Linked DNA regions of Homo sapiens: all the other regions are reported to be linked to region 1. The links are microRNA targets in miRTarBase. Many come from high-throughput screens and were not tested one by one. Region 1 holds a microRNA gene; each other region holds the end of a gene's coding sequence.
What was found. The annotated mature microRNA hsa-miR-500b-5p reads AAUCCUUGCUACCUGGGU and lies in region 1 at 1,686-1,703, shown strand. An mRNA with a match to its seed (bases 2 to 7 or 8) in the 3' UTR can be bound and repressed. Matches are read on the target gene's strand: a 7mer-m8 pairs with bases 2 to 8, a 7mer-A1 pairs with bases 2 to 7 and ends in A, and an 8mer does both.

Region 2: miRTarBase lists HHIPL1 as a target of hsa-miR-500b-5p. The part of its 3' UTR that is shown has no 7-base or 8-base seed match.
Region 3: miRTarBase lists IKZF5 as a target of hsa-miR-500b-5p. Seed matches in the 3' UTR shown: 7mer-A1 at 1,713-1,719.
Region 4: the mRNA of POLR3G is a reported target of hsa-miR-500b-5p. Seed matches in the 3' UTR shown: 7mer-m8 at 546-552.

Annotation. Positions count from the first base shown.
Region 1 is chrX:50,008,997-50,012,232 of GRCh38, forward strand. MIR500B (microRNA 500b) reads left to right here and starts at 1,676; the gene lies at 1,676-1,754. The region is part of intron 3 of CLCN5 (chloride voltage-gated channel 5); the gene reads left to right. It overlaps MIR501 (microRNA 501), which reads left to right and starts at 726; the gene lies at 726-809. MIR362 (microRNA 362) reads left to right here; the gene lies at 1-32.
Region 2 is chr14:99,675,175-99,678,410 of GRCh38, forward strand. It overlaps HHIPL1 (HHIP like 1), which reads left to right. Exons shown (of 9, transcript NM_001127258.3): 9 at 1-3,236. The coding sequence ends at 452. Among named protein-coding and RNA genes, the nearest start is that of CYP46A1, 7.5 kb to the right of the region's middle. RefSeq lists enhancers at 1-482, 1,046-1,609, 1,610-2,172.
Region 3 is chr10:122,991,345-122,994,344 of GRCh38, reverse strand. IKZF5 (IKAROS family zinc finger 5) reads left to right here. Exons shown (of 5, transcript NM_001372123.1): 5 at 1-3,000. The coding sequence ends at 565. Among named protein-coding and RNA genes, the nearest start is that of PSTK, 12 kb to the right of the region's middle.
Region 4 is chr5:90,511,630-90,514,629 of GRCh38, reverse strand. POLR3G (RNA polymerase III subunit G) reads right to left here. Exons shown (of 8, transcript NM_006467.3): 8 at 73-2,577. The coding sequence ends at 2,491. Among named protein-coding and RNA genes, the nearest start is that of LYSMD3, 16 kb to the left of the region's middle.

The sequences.
Region 1 (3,236 bases):
TTCAGTGCAACACACCTATTCAAGGATTCAAAGAGGCTGAGCCTTGTCTACATGTAGAAGGACCAACAACCTGTCCCCTTCTTTCACATGTTTGTGTTTGCTATGCGGTGCCAGATCCTGCACTGGGTGGTGGAGATACAACGGTAAATAAGACAGCTAAGGTCCCTGGGCTCTGTAGAGGGCACCTGTGGGAGAATGAACTTCATCATTGCCCTGGACAAGCTTACACCTCTTTGAGAGCATGAGCTTTCTGTTTACTCCCAGCTTACTATGTGTCAGATACTGTAATGGGGAAACACACATTGGGTGATGAGACTTGCACAGCCAGTCTTTGCTCTCAGTGAGCTTATAGTTTACCAGAGAAACAGAAGAGAATGAAGTATCCCAATTTTCTGTACCATCTTCCAACATGTGCATGTACATGTGTGCCCACATACAGTTTGTCCCAACCTCCTTGCTAGGCCCCAAATACATCCAGCACCTGCAGACCCTCAAGTGTGATCTGAAAAAGATGCCACTCATATCTTTCATTCTAGTCTGAGGTTTTGTCTGAGAGGGCATGTCCATGTGGCCTTGTGCAGGGGGATGAATACATATGCTATCCCTGAGGAGAGGCATCTGTCTTAGCAAATGCACACAGAGATACTTTGCAGGAATGGGACCATGAAAGTCAAATATATATGGAGATATACATGCAGGGTGCAGGTGCCTGAGTCTTCTGCTCTGCTCTTCCTCTCTAATCCTTTGTCCCTGGGTGAGAGTGCTTTCTGAATGCAATGCACCCGGGCAAGGATTCTGAGAGGGTGAGCCCCCTCTGCGTGGAGAACAGAAGATCTGTATGTCACCTCTCAGCTGCTTGCTGCTTGCCTGCCTGCTCTCTGACCCTCATTCATTCTTTCCTTCCACAAATAATATGTATTGGGCACCATGATGGGCATTGGACACAGAGAAATGAACAAGGCAGACTTCGCCCCTGCCTTCCTGGATATTATAGCCTGAGAGGAGAATGGACTTTGTCACCACTCATTGCCCCTGCATATACTGAGGGTGAGTGGGCCACATAGGAACTTCTTATCTACCCTCTTCCCACCTTAACCCACCCATAAGTGTGAGTCTTCTCATTCCTGCTGTCACATTGATACTTGTTTCTTGTTTTTTCCTTCTTTCCTTCCTTCCTTCTTTTCTTTTTCTTTCTCTTTCTTTTCTTTCTTTCCTTCCTTTCCTTTCCTTTCTTTTCTTCTCTCTTTTCTTTTCTTTCTTTTTTGATGGAGTATTGCTCTGTTGCTCAGGCTGGAGTGCACTGGCACCATCACAGTTCACTGCAGCCTCAACCACCTGGGCTCAAGCGATCCTCCCACCTCAGCCTCTCAAATAGCTGGGACCACAGGCTTGTGCCACCATGCCTGGCTAATTTGTGTTTATTTTTTGTAGAGATGGGGTCTCACTATGTTGCCCAAGCTGGTCTCAAACTCCTAGGCTCAAGCAGTCCACCAGCCTTAGCCTCCCAAAGTGTTGGGATTATAGGTGTGAGCCACTGCACCCAGCCTGATACTTGTCGAAGCAACTTCTCTCTACTTTAGTTCAATGCAAGGTTAATGCACTAGGCAAGAACAGCAAGCCTTCTTGTTAGATGCACATGTGAGGTGTACAGGTACTGGAATCTCCTGTCCTGGTTCCCCCTCTCTAATCCTTGCTACCTGGGTGAGAGTGCTTTCTGAATGCAGTGCACCCAGGCAAGGATTCTGCAAGGGGGAGTGACATCTTCGCATAGGACAGAGCACTTCTACCTCCTCCTTCCATCCTTTCTATGACTATTTGTTGAGTACCTACCTACTCTATTGCAGGTGCTGTCCTGGGCAGTTGGCCCACAAGAGAATGAGCCATATCTGGTTCCCTACCTTCATGGAGTGTACAGTTCAGGGAGGAGAATGGACTCCTTCTCATTCATTATATCTGCATGTCCTGAGGGTGGGTGGGGTACAGGGTGGGTGGGGTACAGATACATGTTGGAGAATCTACTAAACCTCAGTACAATCACACATAAATACGCTGTGTGCAAGAGAAAGGGCCTGACTTGGTTACATCCACAGAGACATGTCCTCACAGAGTGGTCCCTCTGACCTGGTGCATCACTCACATTCTTTCAGCCTGTGTGCCAGTACTGCCTTGACTCACTGTCCCTTTTCAAGAATTCCAAGGGAAGAAGCCTTGTCTACACTTAAAAGGACAGAGCTTTTGCACATCAACTCTCCCTCCTCTTCCTTCCACAGATACTCAAGTGTCTATTAGACAGCAGGTATTATGTTCATCACCAAGGATATAGCAGGGATCAAAATGGACAGGTTGCTACCCTACATTCTGGTAGGGACTCATAAACACACTATACATAAATGTTGTGGATGAATAGGCCACTGTTCAAAAGAATGAAGTAGATCTATATGTTCCTTGTTACCCAGTCTGCATGCACAAGCATGTGCAGGTTCTGCTCAAGTGAAATTCTCAAATGTCCCCAATCCTTGTACACCAGACACACTCAGAGACATGGCCCTGCATGCAGAGAACCCCACCTACTGAAAGGGTAGGAGATGGAGCCTGTTGTGCTCTCCTCTCTCCCATTCTCAGCGTGCAAGCCAGTGAGCTTCCTTAACTCCCTTATAGATGGGGATTAAATGAGGGAAGTCTTCTTACTGCTACTTTCCTTCTTGCTGCTCTGTATAGGAGAGATCCTTTCATTACTTTTCTGTACAGTCACAGATGAACACACTATATGCGGTGAGCCTTCCCTGTAAACCCATGTGAGCACATGTGCACACACGCACACGTGCACACACACATACTCTGTATGGCTGCTTGGGCCTTCAGTCCTGTTCCCCCTCTTGAATCCTGGTACCTGGATGCAAGTGCTGTGTCAATGCGGTGCACCCAGGCAAGCATTCCACGGCTGAGCCTTTTCTGCATAGAGCGAAGAACACCTGTTTATAATCCCCATCCTTCATTCATTCCCACCTTTAACAAGCAGGGGTGGCGCTCCTGTCATGCACCAGACATGGAGAGACAGGGTGGTCAAGAAAGACACAGAACTCATACTCACATGCCTAGTGAGCATGTTTAAGAGAAGGAACTTCCGTTGCCCACATTGTTCATGCATACGTATGTAGCAGAGAGTGAGTCTTCCCATCATCCCCTCTCCAACCCCCCAACAGTGCTCAGCTAGAGAACTACAAAAGGTGTGTCTC
Region 2 (3,236 bases), not on the chromosome of region 1:
CTCCCCCCGCGCCAACCCCGCGGCCAGCGCGGCCCACCCAGCAGCCAGGGAGCCGGAGGGGCGGCGGGCGGCGGCGGGGGCGGCTGAACTCGGCGAGCCGGGCGTTCCGGGATGGCGAGGTGCGCCTGGTGCGGCCCGCGGGCCTGAGCTCTGGCAGCGGGCGCGTGGAGGTGTTCGTGGGCGGACGCTGGGGCACCGTGTGCGACGACTCCTGGAACATCAGCGGCGCCGCCGTCGTGTGTCGCCAGCTGGGGTTTGCCTACGCCGTGCGCGCCGTCAAGAGAGCCGAGTTCGGCCAGGGCGGCTCGCTGCCCATTCTGCTGGACGATGTGCGCTGCGCGGGCTGGGAGCGGAACCTGCTGGAGTGCCAGCACAACGGCGTGGGCACCCACAACTGCGAGCACGACGAGGATGCGGGCGTCGTGTGCAGCCACCAGAACCCCGACCTGTAGGCAACACGCCGCTGCCCCAGGCCATCCCGCCGGCGGGGGAGCCTGGCAGGGGCCGCTCCGCCCTGTGTGCGCCCAGCGGGTGCACACGTGTTCTAGAGTGAAGGGGGTGCGGGTGTGTGCTGTCCTGGGGACATGTGTGAGGCGCTGCAGTGCATGTGTGTCCTCTGCAGACCCAAGGCAGGAGTGTGTGTTGGGGGCGGTGTGGGCTCTGGAAGTGCATGGTCCATCATGGGCGGGAGGAGTTCCTTTCTTACCTCCAAGCGTTTCAGACACCAGCAGGAACAGCAGCCGGGCTGTGGGACCCTGAGGAGGGAGGGCAGCCAGGCTTCGAGGACGGACATGGCCCCTGGCTGTGCTAACAGAGGCACAGCTTGCAGACTGAGGGCGGTGGGGAGAACCAGGCTTGTCCTGCCCACAGCTGGAATGGAAGGTGCAAGAACAGCCGGAGGGTGGCCTGAGGAATGTGGCCCGGACAGCATGGCCTGGTGCCCGCATCCCCCCCACCCCCTGGCAGTCAGAGGCGCTGGAGAGAACCGGAAGGCATCCAGTGGGGAAGGGAAAGCCTTCTGGAAGGTGGGAGCAGGGTGAGCTGCAGGCCTGGGGCCCCACTGGAGGGGCAGGCTGCGTGGAGGAGCCAGCACCTGCTCAGGGAGGATGGCTGTGAGGACTGGATGACCTCCAAGGCCGTATGCTGGAGAAGCCACTCAGCAGCATACTCAGTCCTTGTGGGTGCTCCTGGGATGGGACCAGCCTCCTCCAACCCTGAGGCCTGATTCTCTCTTGCTCTTGGGGCAGAAGCCACCCACACTAGCTGGGCAGAGCTTTCACCCTGGCCCTCCAGTGAGTCGGTGGGCCTCCACTACTTTCAAAGCTGTGTTTGGGCCCTGGGGCCACCTCTGTCCTTTCCATCCCCATCCCTGCTCAGTGTAAACCCAGGAGACCTGATTCCTCCAGCCCTACCTCGGGGCTGACCAGGCTGGGGGTCCAGTGAAACTACTGACACTTTTTCACCCAGGGCTATGCCAATAATGTGGCTGTTTACACACCACTTTCCTGCCTCCTCTCTGACCTGCACCTGTGTGGGAGCCGGGGTGGGAACCAGGAGAAAGGGGTGAGGCCTCCCGCTTCCCACCTGCATCACAGGTGGAAGCTCCTTCACTCCAGGGATGCTCGGCCCTGGCTCTGTGCCAGGCCGCAGAGGGGCACTTAGTATGACTGCGCTCAGCCTCGGATGGGAGCACGGGTGGGGGGTGGGTAAGCAGATGAGTCACCAGGCAGTGAAGACAGGATGTGGCCCATGTCGGGGGTTGGAAGAGGTCTGGGTGGGGCACCCAAACCCAACCTATGGGGGGGCTTTGGGAGGGGGTGATGCTGTGCCAAGTTCTGGGAGCTGGCACCAGGGGTGGCTGGGCAGGCCTTGGGGCAGGCATGAGTCTGGCAGGGTCTCCTAGCTGCTAGTATAGGGTCTCCTAGCCACTAGTATAGGATCCTGGGCTGCAGCAGAAAGCTTTAGGTCACTGTCTTGGACTCCTCATACTCTGTGCTTTACAGAATGGGAAACTGAGGCACACAGAGGTTAGATATCTTAGGGCACCAAGCCAGGGAAGGGAGAAGTCAAGTTTGAATACAGCAGCTTAGTTTAGAGTCCCCGCACCCTAACCACTGCCCTCCCCAGCTACACTATGCCTGCAGAGAGCGGTGTGCTGGGGCTCCTGCCTGGTGTGGGAGTGCCAGCCTGGCTGGGAAGCAGCTGATGGAGATCCCTGGGGGCTCCTCTTGCCTGGCAGGTGCCCCCGCTGCTGGCCTCATGCTCCTCTCGGGCCTCCAGTGGCCCAGGGGAGGTTGAGTGGGCATCTTCCTGGGATGCAGGGGAGTTCTGAGCTCTGACGCCGGGCGTGTTAGGAGATAGCAGGCCGTTAATGACCATCCCAGCCGAATTCCTCACTGTGCAGATGAGGAAGTGAGCTCAGGGAGGCTGAGTGTCCCAGGCCTGTTGCCAGATGAGGCCACGCTGAGACTGGAGCCAGGGAAGGTGCAGCAAGCCTTGAGGCCCTCAAGAATGCAGCCGAGCCAGGGCCCTGCTTGCCTGGCCCCAGAAGCTGTTTTGCTCAGAGCTGGATTAGGAGGGTTGGCAAAGGGAGCTCTGGGTGCGGCCTCAGGCCCTCCAGTACTTCTCTGGGCAGTTCGGGCTTTGGCCTTCAGTCTTCCAGGCCAGGCGCTCTTCCTCCCCAGCCTCCAACTCATCACCTCTCAGGCCCCAAACCAGGCCTGGGCTAGGCTGCAGCCTGCCTCCTGGGGACTCACTCCACAGTCCCCAGGTCAGTGGTCCCCAACCTTTTTGGCATCATGGACTGGTTTCATGTAAGACAATTTTTCCATGGATGGGGGTTGGGGGGATGGTTTTGGGATGAAATGTCCCACCTCAGATCATCAGGCATTAGATTCTCATAAGGAGTTCACAGCCTAGATCCCTCGCATGCACAGTTCATAGTAGGTTTCATGTTCCTATGCGGATCTAATGCCACTGCTGATCTGGCAGGAGGCAGAGCTCAGGTGGGAATGCTTGCTCCCCACACTACCCTGCCCCACTGCCACTCACCTCCTGCTGTGTGGCCCGGTTCCTAACAGGCCACCCATCAGTACTGGTCCGTGGCCCAGGGTTTGGAGACCTCTGCCCTAGGTAGTAATAAGAGTGGACAGCTGTTATATGTAAATACTTGTTCCCCGATGCTGGAAAGAAATAGCACTAAAACATAAATTTAATTCTTTCAGCAAGGCAATTTT
Region 3 (3,000 bases), not on the chromosome of region 1:
AACCACACCAACTGGTGGCCTTCCAAGGGACCCCCAAGAACTCATGGTTGATAACCCTTTGAATCAGCTCTCGACTCTAGCAGGGCAGTTGTCCAGTCTGCCACCCGAAAACCAAAACCCTGCATCCCCTGATGTAGTTCCCTGCCCTGATGAAAAGCCTTTCATGATTCAGCAGCCCTCTACCCAAGCAGTAGTTTCTGCCGTATCAGCAAGTATTCCTCAGAGCTCCTCTCCCACAAGCCCAGAACCTCGGCCATCCCATAGTCAAAGGAACTATAGTCCAGTGGCAGGTCCAAGCAGTGAGCCAAGTGCCCACACGAGCACTCCCAGCATAGGAAACAGCCAGCCAAGCACCCCAGCCCCAGCCCTGCCGGTCCAGGACCCTCAGCTTCTGCACCACTGCCAGCACTGTGATATGTACTTTGCAGACAACATCCTTTACACTATTCATATGGGATGTCATGGGTATGAAAATCCTTTTCAGTGTAATATATGTGGATGCAAATGTAAAAACAAGTATGATTTTGCCTGTCATTTTGCAAGAGGGCAACATAACCAACATTGATTGAAAATAGTCATATTTTACTTAGTTTTGCTGTTTTTGTGGTTTGGTTTTTTTTGTTTTTTGTTTTGGTCATCCCTAATAAAGTGTCTGCTAATTCAAGGCTTATACATTATATTTATAGAATATAAATTTGTCAGTGGAATAAAATTTCCCCTTTTTTTCATAAAAATCTGGTCAGGGTCATTTATATATTAGAACAGTTAGACACATTGGTGTCTCTTTTTTCCTTTCCTTTCGACATTGGAGAATTGGAGTGCAGTCATAATCTTACAAGATGTTCATTTGAATTTCTCACATTTATGGTCCATAAAAACTTCAAGGCTTATCCATACTTTTGATGTTTCAATATGCATTGAACTGGATGTTATTTCTGCCATATTTCAAAATGGTAGAATAAATTACAGAATTTATTACTACTCATTTCAGTGTTTAGTACAGAAATTGCCTTAAAAATTGCTATTAATTGAAATATCATTTAGTTCACATTCCTTAAGTTGAATCGGTAGTTTCATTTCAACTGATAATAGTAAAGCTATTTCAGTTTAGTAAAAATTTTCTTTTTTCCACAAGAGGAAATGTAAAACAGTTAAGACTTGAAATTGAAAATTCTTTTAATATTTAAAATAACTTGTTTATTCAATGTCTAAACACATGTCAGTTTTCCACTGGATTTTTATTTTCACAGGTAAATACACTAGAGTGCTAGATGCCTTTTTCCCCTGTCAGTTTGACTTTCATTTAAATCCTTCATTCTGATATCATTACTGTTAGGTGAGGTGGATAACTATAATGAGAATCTCTTATTCTTCCTATTCCTTTGATGACCAAAGAGATAAAGTGAAGTCATCCTTATTATTAAAATGCAGCCTCCAAACAAATTTCTCAAGATTCCTTTTCCTTCCTTCTATCCATTTTCTGCCCATAATTTCCAAGAAAAGGTGGGTATGGAAACACATGAGAGAATGTGATAGTGAAGTCATATTTACAAAACTGAGAACATGTCCAAAATGGATTCTTGTCTCCTCTTCAGAATTAGCCATTTAAAATATTTTCTGTGACTTCAAATTGTAATTCTTATTTGCAGTTTTACCAGTCTTCATGTACAGTGACGAAACTGTGTAGAAACTAAATCATCGCTTTAGTAAGAAAGGATAAAAAGGTGTGGAAGTGAATATAAAATGCATCTAAACATGACATTTAATTTGTTTATAAAAATAAGACTTACTAAATATAGAGTAATTCATTTTGAATAGGAGGCTATTGTTTTTATATTGTGTAATAACTCACGTACTCTGAAGAGAGCTTGGTCAAACAATAAAATACATTGTTACTAACTTGGTTTCTTTTCTGTGTACTTTGCAAAAATTCTATTTTTAATTTTGTTCATATGTTGAATGTGCCCCTAATTGGCATCTTAAAGAGAATAGTAAGCATCTATTAACCAAAAAAGAACTCTAATAGTAAAGGAAAGGGAAATATTGGTGGTATGTACCCACAAAACCCCCAAGTGCCAAGTTAATGGAATCTCTGCTTTCCCTTTCAGATGCTAGAAAGCCACTGTAATGAGTTCTTGCAGTTTAGCATCCAGTCTAAGCTACTGCATTGTTTAAAGAGCAGCATCAAGGACACTTTCTCCAAACTGGAACTCTCTTCTTTGTCAAATCTTGTACTTTAAAATTCTACAATTCTGTTACATTGTTGTTTAAATCACAGACTGCTCAGATCCATTTTACTGCAGTAGTTTCCAAGTGTGTAACTTGGCTTTAGTATTTATCAGTTGCCAGAAAGAAACAGGTTGTCATTTGGAAGTTTTTGTGGTTATTTTTTCCCATTTTTATTCTTCAGATAAAAGCAGTACCCCAAAATAGAAAATGAAAATTTTCATGAAACAAAGAGAACTCCCTTGTTAAAACCAGCTTATTAACTCTGTATTCTGTCAAATGCATTTTTTTCTAACAACTGACCATGGATGTTGTGAAGGTGCATTTTAATTTAAACATGGAAAAGATTTTTTTCATAATTACATACTAGAATGTAAAATTATAATTTTGCCATGACTTAAAGAGCACAGTTGATATCCCAAAGGTTTTGATGCTAAGAAGCTACAGTTATTCTAAATGCACTAAAATGTTTGAGGCAAATCTACCTTAGAGGCTTTTTTGGTATGGTATTTTTTAAAATATTTAGATTTTATTTAAATTTCCTGTGAGTTATTCTGTATTTGAAAAGATGTTCGTGTCTTCCCCTCTGTATTGAATGTTTCACTCATTTTATTTTTAATCAAATATTTTATAGAAATGAGTTGTTGGGAAGAGTTTAACATGCACTATTTATAGTACTTTGCCGTTAACAGGCAATGTTCTGAAACTAAATTTATTTTTGTTCAGTGAACATAAGTTTAGATTTTTAAAGTTGGTAGATAATTTATCTCCACT
Region 4 (3,000 bases), not on the chromosome of region 1:
GTAGCTGGGACTATAGGCACAGACCAGCATGCCCATCTCACAACAACTTTTTTGAATAATCATTAACCAGAGTTTTGTTGTTTGTGGTGATTGTTTATTCAAGAATATTTGGAACAAACATCCCTGCTTAATAGTTACTAGTTAAGATCTATATTAACAAATTAGTTTTCTCTAACAAATAAACATTTAAATAAGTTCAAAATAAAACATCTTACTATAAAACAAACGAACACATTTTGTTTTGTAAGAATTTAATGTGTAAATAAATACAGAAAAACAAGCATTACAGCAACCAGTTTTGCTCATGATAGCAATTTTAAAGACACTTCAACAAATACTTTTATGTAAGAGGCTAATTCTGCAAAATAACATTCACTTTCCTATGGAATAATTTCACAGTCCCAGATTTTAAGCCAGAAAAATGAGACTCATGCTGGTAAAGCAACCTGCAAATCCTGCTTGTTCTTGCAACTAGTATACTTTAACATTGTAAAAGGATCTTTCAAAGGGGGAAAGAAGGCTCTTAACGGTACCTCCCAGAGTAAATCCTTGCCCCAAGGGGCTGCCCTGCTATCTGCAAGACTAAAATGGTCATGACAAATTCAAAGCTAAAAAAAGAAATAACCTTTATCTTCAGTGTATTTGCCTGGTTCAAGTGGTTATCTGCAGATTTATAAGTAGGTAAATAGAACAATATTGATAAGATTTCTGAAAACTAAATTGTATTTGGCTCTGGTACTAAGGAGTTGAGAGAATAAAACACCTATGTTAATTATCAACCGCAAATGACAACTTTTTGTGAGGTTTCTATTCTAAGGCTTACTTTATTCGTGTATTCCATTTAGAATCTTAAAATTTTTTGACAACTTCCTTTAAACAAGAAGTAATTCACAAATGGTTAACACAGCACTAAACTAATAAGATAGGTCCTCACACCCATCTTGAATTATTTAAGAAAGTATTGCCATTGAAACATCTTTTTCCTGAGAAATTCATATTGCAGAATGGCACAAGACAATACACATTTTCTCCAATTTTCTGCATGAATACAAGATAGGAAAATCAGATTACAATATATTTTGTGAGGAAAACATGTTTCTTAAAATTGTGCTTTCAGTTACTCTCCAAACTACAAATTTTTAGAGGGTGAGAGCCAAATGTAAGTTAAGAAGTGATCTTTAAGGCAAGAGAATGAATACATATGGTAAATTTTGGTTGGTGTTTAAACAATTTTTATAGGAAATTGTTTACGAGTGGAGAAACTAAGGCACAGAAACAACCAAGCTCAGGTTCAAGGTTGAGTTTAATAGTATAGGTAGAAATAGAATCTAGGGATCTGATTCTCATATTAGAGGATAATATCTCCCCAAAGGGGAAAAATAAAATTATTTCTTTTGGTAGATAACATTGATAAATCATTTTTGAAATATATAATATGAATTTCCTTGAAAATCTTTGGCATTTCTGAGAGTCTTTGTAGGCTGAGGTTTTTAGGTATTTTTTCCCAAAAAATATATAAAGTTAGGGGAGCTAGCTTTAAAGTTAAACAACAAAAATATTAATATTAATTTCAAAATGACCTGAGTTCATTTTGCATTTTTATATAAATCAATTGTACACTTGAGTACTCTGAAACATAAAAGGCCACCACACTTCACTTCATAGAGTTCACACACATGCATTCTACATATTTATATGACCAGAACTTATTTCACATTTACATAAAGTATAAAATAAAATGTCTTAGTCAAATTTTTCATAAGCCCAACTATTTGAAGATGTCAGTTATTACAGTGGGATGATTAATTCATATACAGTATTAAGTCTCAAATTCAAGTATTATAATATTCACCCCATGTGAAAGTTTCTTTGTACTGGCTAAGATGTGAGCTGTGAAATTTATATTGCTCAGTTTGGTATTTTTCCCTATGTGTATGTTTTCCATCACAAAACCTCTGTCTCACAATTCTGTACTTGTAAGAGCTCAGGTAGGTTTATGTAGTCATAATGCAGTAGTCTAGAACACACCATGTAAAGGTAAAAAATAAAATTATTTTCAAGTTTCTTTGTTTTTAAAGTGCTCCACGTGCTGTATTATATCAACTTTCAGGTTATAGAAATCCATTATGACTAGCAATAGTTTTACAAAAGATCAGCAGTTAAGCAAGAATGATTTGTTCAAGTATGTATACATAGATTAAGAGAGCAAAAATTCTTTAGGCACATTCATATTCAAATCATACAAAAAAACCCATGAGAGTACATAAGAGAGATGGCAGAGGTGTTTAGAAGGAATGTCAGAGTGTCAGGGAATAATTTTTAAGGTAACTAGTATGTAAACTCAAAGTGGTTTTGAATATTTTGGTAACAACTATTTGTCCAAAACAACAGAAACAAGTACTTATTCCTTATCAGAAATAAAATACAAATCAAGTCTGTCCAAATGTTCAGAAGCTGCATCATAAAAATATTTTTTGAAAAATTTCATGCCTAATAGGTTGCCTCATCCATGTTGTCATCACTGTCTGCGCCAAAATCATCTCCATCTTCAAAGTATGAATTAATGTAGTCATTTTCCTAAGTGAAATGATATATTCCTTTGTAAACGTTAAAATGAATGAGTAGTAAGAAAATATTCCAGGCCTAAAAGTCTCTGCTTTTTATCTGCTTCAAAAACACAACAGTTTTCACTTGTGTTTACCTGTGCCGCTTTCTTCCTTAAGACCACCACCTTCCACTCTTGTCAGGCACTAACTAGCTAAGAGAACATGAAGGGTTGCCCATACCATCTCAATAGGATAATATAGCTACTAACACATTACAGCTTACTGGGATGATACATAGTTTAGTTAGCTAAACCACTAAACACTTACCCAAAAAATGCACAGACAAGAAAAAAAGCCAGTTTACATTAACATCCATTAGACTACACCAGTACTGAGATTTTTAGTCATAAAACATAACTAAGCATAAGCCAGAAAGACTTTTACTTCCTATTAA